Linked DNA regions of Homo sapiens: regions 2 and 3 are each linked to region 1. Evidence: fine-mapped expression QTL. A gene starts in region 1. Each other region holds a variant in brackets. All regions are shown on one strand. Distances are between the middles of the regions.

What was found. PIP is the estimated chance that this variant, and not a neighbour inherited with it, causes the effect.
Region 2: its variant is fine-mapped to the expression of ACER3 in whole blood (TOPMed, PIP 0.90).
Region 3: its variant is fine-mapped to the expression of ACER3 in whole blood (TOPMed, PIP 0.94).

The regions. Positions count from the first base shown.
Region 1 is chr11:76,859,172-76,861,933 of GRCh38, forward strand. It overlaps ACER3 (alkaline ceramidase 3), which reads left to right and starts at 1,747. Exons shown (of 11, transcript NM_018367.7): 1 at 1,747-1,908. The coding sequence starts at 1,806. RefSeq lists silencers at 1,420-1,519, 1,560-1,819.
Region 2 is chr11:76,820,351-76,823,112 of GRCh38, forward strand. No RefSeq gene overlaps it. Among named protein-coding and RNA genes, the nearest start is that of TSKU, 38 kb to the left of the region's middle. The variant C/T (reference allele first, on the strand shown) is at 1,426.
Region 3 is chr11:76,884,258-76,887,019 of GRCh38, forward strand. All of the region lies in intron 1 of ACER3 (alkaline ceramidase 3), which reads left to right. Among named protein-coding and RNA genes, the nearest start is that of ACER3, 25 kb to the left of the region's middle. The variant G/T (reference allele first, on the strand shown) is at 1,203.

The sequences.
Region 1 (2,762 bases):
CTGGGCGTGGTGGTGCACACCTGTAGTCCCAGCTACTCTGGAGGCTGAGACAGGAGAATCGCTTAAACCCAGGGGGCGGAAGTTGCGGTGAGCTGAGATCATGCCAGTGCATTCCAGCCTGGCCGACAGAGCAAGACTGTCTCAAAAAAAAAAAAAAAAAAAAAAAAAGATACACTGCTTCCCTAGGTTTTGCACCTAGCAAATAAAAGTTCTGCATCTATTTCCTGCTAATTGGCTATGGTTATTTTGTAGAAAGGCTGTGGGCTCTTCATCTCTCCTTGTCCTCTCTTTTACCTTTGACTTGCACCACATCTGACTTATTTATTTAGAAAATAGCAGTTGTATCATCCTTCATTTTTACTCTTCATTTCTTACTGTGTATTCAGGCAGAGTCCTAATACTAAGACCATAAAGAAGGGAAAGCAAGGTCTCTGATCAGGATGTAGCACAGTAGGATGTGAACAAAGGGCAAGGAAGCTCTAGGGTGTAAACATCTGGGATGGCTTCAGAGAGCTGGATTTTAAAAGAAGAGTGGGGAGTTGGTCAAACGGAGAAGAGAGTTAGGCTGTCCCAGTTGAACTGTGGGAGCAAAGGCAGGTGACCCAGCGCATTCTAGGAGAGGGGAAAGTTTGAGTTTGGTGTAGCTGAACACTAGGGGCAAGGGTGGTTGCATCTGTTTTAGGAAGAGCTCTCTGGCAGACCTGTGGAGTACTAGACTTTTTATTTATTTATTTATTTATTTATTTATTTATTTATTTAGAGACAGGGTCTCGCTCTGTTCTCCCAGGCTGGATTGGCACAGTCTCAGCTCACTGCATGCAATCTCCACCGCGGGGGCTCAAGTGATCCTCCCACCTCAGCTTCTCAAGTAGCTGGGACCACACGTCTGAGCCACCGCGCCCAGCTAATTTTTGTATTTTTCGTAGACACGGGGTTTTGCCGTCTACGATACTCCCAGACGGGGGCTGGGAGTATTAGACTTGAAGTTGGAAGTAGGGGTAGGCTGTTGGTTGCCTGAAGAGCAGGGCACAATTATAGTTAGAACGTGGAAACCTCTGTGCTTGGAGGCCCAAACGAAGCAGGGAAACTTTGCTTTAGTGCTCTAGCTAGCAGCATTCTTTTTTTTTAGGATCTCAGAACCTACTTTTTTTTTTTCGGTCCTGGGTTGTTCACCCTTTCCCTTTGTACCGAAGAGACACTTACACCTTTATCAGAAAATCACGGTTTATTTCCTGAGAATCACGGGGATTGGTTGGGGGTACTCTGTTTTGGGGCTCCATTTGAGGCCTGTGGCTCAATGGAAGACATAGAGGCGCTTCGCCGCACAGGTTTAATCAAGCAAGGGCTTGATAGAAGTATTCATCCCACCCCCGCCCCGATTAAATCAAACCACACGCACACAAATAGAGGCTCTGGCACATCCTGACAGAATATAGCCTCTGGGATGTCAGGAACCCCCAACCTACGGCCATTGGCGTGTCTGCACCGGCCAGGAAGCCCAGGCCCCCGGCTCCTTCCTGGATCACGCCCCTGCCCCGCCCAAGGGTGAAGAGGGGCGGGGCCAGCCGGCGCCCTCCGAGTGGGCCTTACACCAGGTCGGGCCTGGCCCGGCCCCGCGGCCCAGCGGCGCCGGTGGGCGGGGCCTCCGTCAGGGCAGTGTCAGTAACGGCGCCAGGCCCCGCCCCTCGGGGAGGCAGGGCCGGGCGGGGCGCGAGCGAGCGCGCGGGCTGGGCCGGAGCCGGCCTGGTCGCCAGCCTAACCCGGCACAGTGAGCGGAGCGCCTGGGCGGCGGCGGCGGCGGCGTGATGGCTCCGGCCGCGGACCGAGAGGGCTACTGGGGCCCCACGACCTCCACGCTGGACTGGTGCGAGGAGAACTACTCCGTGACCTGGTACATCGCCGAGTTCTGTGAGTGTGGCCTGAGGAGGGGAGTGGGGGCGAGAGGGCACCGGGCTGAGGAGACGCCGTGTGAGGAAGGCAAAGAGCGAACCTGGCCGCGAAGGGAGGTGCCAGGCCTGGCCCCGGGAGCTGGAATGCGGCGCCCTGGGCCAGCGGGAGGCTGAGAGGAGCGGGCCGGGAGTCCAGTGTGTAGAGGGAGGAGTACCGGGGTCTGGGAGGGAGGAAGGGGGCCTGAGGATTGGGGGGGCAGAAGAGCAGTGGGAAGTGGGGAGCCCCTGCTGGACCTAAGGGGGAAAGCCTGAAGAGCCGGGTTGGGAATGGGAATTCCTGCCCGAGAGCGGAGTGGGGCCAGGCTGGGAGAGTGGAGGACCCTGCCCCTTGGAATGAGGGCCCAGGACACCTGCTCTGCTGTTGCCACCACCAGAAGGGTACAGTTCCTAGCTTCGTCTTTCCCCCAATCCGTGAGAATTCTACCGTCTTTCCCTTCCCTTTTCACTGGAATATTAGACCTCCTTGCTCACCTCCAGGGAACAGTTTCACTAGTCTGAGATCTGAACCATCCCACCCCTATCCCCCAGGATGTCTTCAAGTACCAGAGGTCATCTGCTCTCTGAGTATGATTATTCAACTGTCATCTTGCACCAGGAGTCGAAGGCATCTTGCACCTAGCCTGTACCTTCTGCCCCTGCCAGGCTCCCAAGAGCACAGAGGACCAAGTCCCTGCTCCATTCTGTCCTATCCAACTATCTAGGAGTTAGGGGTCATCTGAGGACACTACTTCCACCGACTGCACCTTCTGAGGATTTAAGCATTCTTCTTTAGCGGCTGCTCTGTCAGGCACTGCTGGTCAGGTTGGGCTTGTT
Region 2 (2,762 bases), 39 kb before region 1:
CAGCATTGGCACAAACCTTGCTGAGGAGCAATTTGGCAATATGTTCCCTATGCCCTAAAAATTGCCTCAGTAATTTCACTTCTGTAATACTCTTCTTAGGAAACAATTATAGGTAAGTAAAAGATTTAGCTACAATAATACTTATTTTGCTACTTATAATAGCAAAAATATTGAAGACATTCTAAAGATTCATCAATAGCATGGCTGTTTAAGTAACTTATGTCTCAGGACAGAATATTGGCAACCATTAAATTTCAGCTGCATGGCCAGGTGAGGTGGCTCACACCTGTAATCCCAGCACTTCAGGAGGTGGAGGCAGGAGGATTGCTTGAGCCTAGGAGTCAGAGACCAACCTGGGCAATACAGTGAGACTCATCTCAAAAAAAGAAGAAGAAAAAGAAAAAAAAAATTAAGCTGCACAGCTCTCCCTCTCCCTCTCCCTCTCCCTCTGCCTCTCCCTCTCCCTCTCCCTCTCCCTCCACGGTCTCCCTCTGATGCCGAGCCGAAGCTGGACTGTACTGCTGTACTGCTGCCATCTCGGCTCACTGCAACCTCCCTGCCTGATTCTCCTGCCTCAGCCTGCCGAGTGCCTGCGATTGCAGGCGCGCGCCGCCACACCTGACTGGTTTTCGTATTTTTTTGGTGGAGACGGGGTTTCGCTGTGTTGGCTGGGCTGGTCTCCAGCTCCTAACCGTGAGTGATCCGCCAGCCTCGGCCTCCCGAGGTGCCGGGATTGCAGATGGAGTCTGGTTCACTCAGTGCTCAATGGTGCCCAGGCTGGAGTGCAGTGGCGTGATCTCGGCTCACTACAACCTCCACCTCCCAGCCGCCTGCCTTGGCCTCCCAAAGTGCCTAGAGTGCAGCCTCTGCCCGGCCGCCACCCCGTCTGGGAAGTGAGGAGTGTCTCTGCCTGGCTGCCCATCGTCTAGGACGTGAGGAGCCCCTCTGCCTGGCTGCCCAGTCTGGAAAGTGAGGAGCGTCTCTGCCCGGCCGCCATCCCATCTAGGAAGTGAGGAGCGTCTCTGCCTGGCCGCCCATCGTCTGAGATGTGGGGAGCGCCTCTGCCCCACTGCCCCGTCTGGGATGTGAGGAGCGCCTCTGCCCGGCCGCGACCCCATCTGGGAGGTGAGGAGCGTCTCTGCCCAGCCGCCCCGTCTGAGAAGTGAGGAGTCCCTCCGCCTGGCAACCGCCCCGTCTGAGAAGTGAGGAGCTCCTCCGCCCGGCAGCTGCCCCATCTGAGAAGTGAGGAGCCCCTCTGCCCGGCAGCCACCCCATCTGGGAAGTGAGGAGCGTCTCCACCCGGCAGCCACCCCGTCCGGGAGGGAGGTGGGGGTCAGCCCCCGCCAGGCCAGCCGCCCGGTCCGGGAGGGAGGTGGGGGGGTCAGCCCCCCGCCCGGCCAGCCGCCCTGTCTGGGAGGTGAGGGG[C/T]GCCTCTGCCCGGCCGCCCCTACTGGGAAGTGAGGAGACCCTCTGCCCAGCCACCACCCCGTCTGGGAGGCGTACCCAACAGCTCGTTGAGAACGGGCCATGATGACAATGGCAGTTCTGTGGAGTGGAAAGGGGGGAAAGGTGGGGAAAAGATTGAGAAATCGGATGGTTGCCGTGTCTGTGTAGAAAGAAGTAGACATGGGAGACTTTTCATTTTGTTCTGTACTAAGAAAAATTCTTCTGCCTTGGAAAAAAAAAAAAAAAGAAACTGGTAAAAAAAAAAAAATTAAGCTGCACATAGGCAATTTTTTTTTTTAAATCTTTGATTCCTATCTCACATCTTATATAAAAATTAACTCAAAATGGATCACAGACCTAAATGTAAAACAAAATGTTGCAATTTTTAGGAAAAAACATAGGAGAAAATCTCTAAGATCAAGGACTAGGCAAAGGGATTTTTAGACTTCAGATCAAAAGCAGACTCCACAAATGAAAAAAATTGATAAACTGGACCTCATCAAAATTTAAAAGTTTGTTTTATAAAAGAACCTGTGAAAAAGATGAAAAATTAAAGTACAGGTTGAGCTAAAATAGTTGCAAACCACACATCCAACAAAGAACCTATATGTAGTATGTATAAAGAATTCTCAAAACTCAGCAGTAAAAAGAACAAAATCTCAATCAGAATATGGGCAAAAAAACATGAACAGATATTTCACCAAATAAAATATACAAAAGGCAAATAAGCACATTAAAAGATGTTCCACATAATTGGCCATCAGTGAAATGCAAATTAAAACCACAATGATGTAACACTACATACCTACCACAGCGGCTAAAATAAAAAATAGTGACAACACCAAATGCTGGCAAGAATGTGGAGAAAGTGGATCACTTGTGCAAAGCTGGTGGGAATGCAAAAGGACACAGCCATTCTGGAAAACAGTCTTATAATTTGTTATAAAACTAAACAATACACTCATCATACAACCCAGCAATCACACTCTTAGGCATTCATCCCAGAGAAATGAAGACATATTCACACGAAACCTGGACACAAACCTTCATAATAATCATCTGTAATAGTCAAAAAGGGGAAACAACTCTGATGCTCTCCAACAGGTGAAAGGTATAGAAACCATAGTATATCCATACTATAAAATCCTGCATAGCAATATAAAGGAACACATTATTGACACTTGTAAAGGTTTCAAAGGAATTATGAAATATATCCAATCCCAAAATGTTATATATTATATGATTCTAATAATATATAATATAATATAATATATGATTCTAATAATATATAATATAATATAATTATAATAATATACAAT
Region 3 (2,762 bases), 25 kb after region 1:
ACCAAAGTCTAGAAATACTTCCTCCAGAAAGCTGAGTTTACCTCATTTATTTCCCTTTTCTCAGAGATCACATTGCTCTGCTACCTAGTTGTTCAATGCCTGAAAAGAATTTTTTCATAGCATTTGCCCTCTTTTATGCTTGTTAACTGCAAGGGAAAATCCAGTCCCAAGTTACTCCATTATGGCTAACAGTAAAAGTCCCCCAAATCATTGTAGTGTTCTTATGTTCATTAGTTTTAATATCTATTGGATCAAGCCCATTGTGATGTTAAAGTCTTCTGTAACTCTGCTGATTTGTACAGGGGGAGCATGTGAAGGTTGCTTCATCTATTAAACATTAAGATAGGTGTATTAAAATCTTCTACCATGTTGGTGGATTTGTTTATTTTCTTCATTATTATTCTGTTAGTTTTTGCTTTAAGTATTTTGAGGCTATGTAATTTAGTGCAAATATGTTTAGGATTATGATGTCTTCCAGGTGAATTGGATTCTTATTTTTCATTTTTCTTTTTTAATTTTTTTTTGAGACAGGGTCTCACTCTGTTGTCCAGGCTGGAGGGCAATGGCACAATCATAGTTCACTGCAGCCTTGACTTCCTGGGCTCAGCTGATCCTCCCACCTCAGCCTCTGGGATAGCTAGGACTACAGGCATGTGCCACCATGCCCAGCTAATTTTTTTGTATTTTTAGTACAGATGGGGTTTTGCCATGTTGCCCAGGCTGTCTCAAACTCCTGGGCTCAAGTAATCAATCCACCTGCCTTGGCCTCCCAAAGTGCTAGGATTATAGGTGTGAGCCACAAAGCCCAGCCAGATCCTTCTTTTTCTAATGCTTTTTGTTTTAAAGTTCTTTTGGTTTGAAGTATTTATTATCGTTTTTTATTCTTTACTTACAACCTTTCTGCATTCTTATATGTTATTTGCATGTACTATATGCTAGGCACTTAATTTAAAGGTGCCTGGGATTTGTTTTAATCAGGTTTGTTTAGACACAGAGACACAGAAATGACTGTCATGAAGGAAGAAGTTTTTTTTTTAAATTTTACTGTAAGTTCTGGGATACATGTGCAGAACATGCAGGTTTATTACATAGATGTGCATATGCCATGCTGGTTTGCTGCACCCATCAACCCATCATCTAGGTTTTAAGCCCCGCATGCCTTAGGTATTTGTCCTAATGCTCTCCCTCCCCTTGCCCAGGAA[G/T]AAGTTTTTATACTCAGTTTCCTAGAAACAGGATGAATAACACCATGTAGGGCCACTTGGGAAAGCACCAGGGTCAGTCGGGGGGCAGAGGAAGTGGGGAGAAACATGGGCATACAGCTTTATTCCTTCCTGCAGGAAGGAACAGGCAAGGCATTATGAGTCAGCTTAGGCTTGGCTAGTTTTGAGTAATTTCAGTGGGCGCTGGGATGTAGGGGCTGCCACTAGTTGTATGGTACGTGACCCTGGGGTAATTTGGGTAGGGGAATAGTAGCCTAGCATGTAAGAGTCTGATAAATGAGGTAGTTGGGACTATGGGCTCCGGATTGTTTGGTTTGCATATGGAAGGTGCACTCCTTTGCTATCTGGCTAGCTCTGGGAGGAGCAATTCCACCAGGGTAAGCAAGGCCCCAGATGCCAAAGCGTAAAATACAGAAGCCAGAAAACGTGGTTATCATAGCACTGTTCTAGGTACTTGTTCATAATGGCAGTGAGGAAAGCAGATAAGAAAGCCGTTGTCGTGAGCATGCATTCTAATGAGAGAAGATGACAAATAAACAATTAACCAAGTATATAAGTGTTTTCTAATTGTGATAAATGCTGTAAATAAAACTAGGTAATATAATAGAGAATGGCTGGAGGACTTCTTTAGATAGGGTAGTTAAGGAAGGCTTCTCTGAGTTGGTGGCATCTGGCATAAGCCCTGAAGAATGAGATGGCGCATGTGGTAATCTGGGGTAATGATGTTCCAGGCAGTACTGCAAATGGCCCTGTGGCTGGAATAGACTTGGTTTGGTCTAGGAACTTTGGGAAGATTAGTGTTTTGGAATGATGGGCAAGAAGGCAAGTAATTAGAAGAGATAGGCAGGGGTTGATTGTGTTAGCCTTGTAGACCATGGTAAAGAGATTGGCTTTTATTTTATTTGCAGTTGAAAGCCTTTGGAGTGTTTTCAGCCAGGAGAGTAAACTTTTTATACTCAGTTCAGAACAAGTCAGGTAGAAATACCATTGACAGTATAACACTTAGGAGATACGTTAGCATGTTACAATTATATGATTGAAAAGGAAGATGTTGTTAAATTGGAAACGTTTTCATGAAACAAATGGCTGCAAAGGAGGATTTTGATCATAGTGGGAGACTAGGATTGATGAAGAATGAGAATGGAATTTCAAAGGAGAGAAATCATACAAAGCATGCCTAGGTACTCAAGGTACTATGGGGGTTTTGCTGTTATTGTTTTTGAGACAGAGCCTGACTCTGTGGCCCAGGCTGGAGTGCAGTGGTGCCATCTTGGCTCACTGCAACCTCTGCCTCCTTGGTTCAAGCGATTCTTTTGCCTCAGCCTCCCAAGTAGCTGGAATTACAAGTGTGCGCTACACCTGGCTAATTTTTGTATTTTTTGTAGAGACGGGGTTTTGGCATGTTGCCCAGGCTGGTTTTGAACTCCTGAACTCAAGCAATCCTCCCGCCTTGGCCTCCCAAAGTGCTGGGATTACAGGCGTGAGCCATACCACCATGGGTTTAAGAACTTACTGTCGAGAACAATATATAAAGTTTAAGAA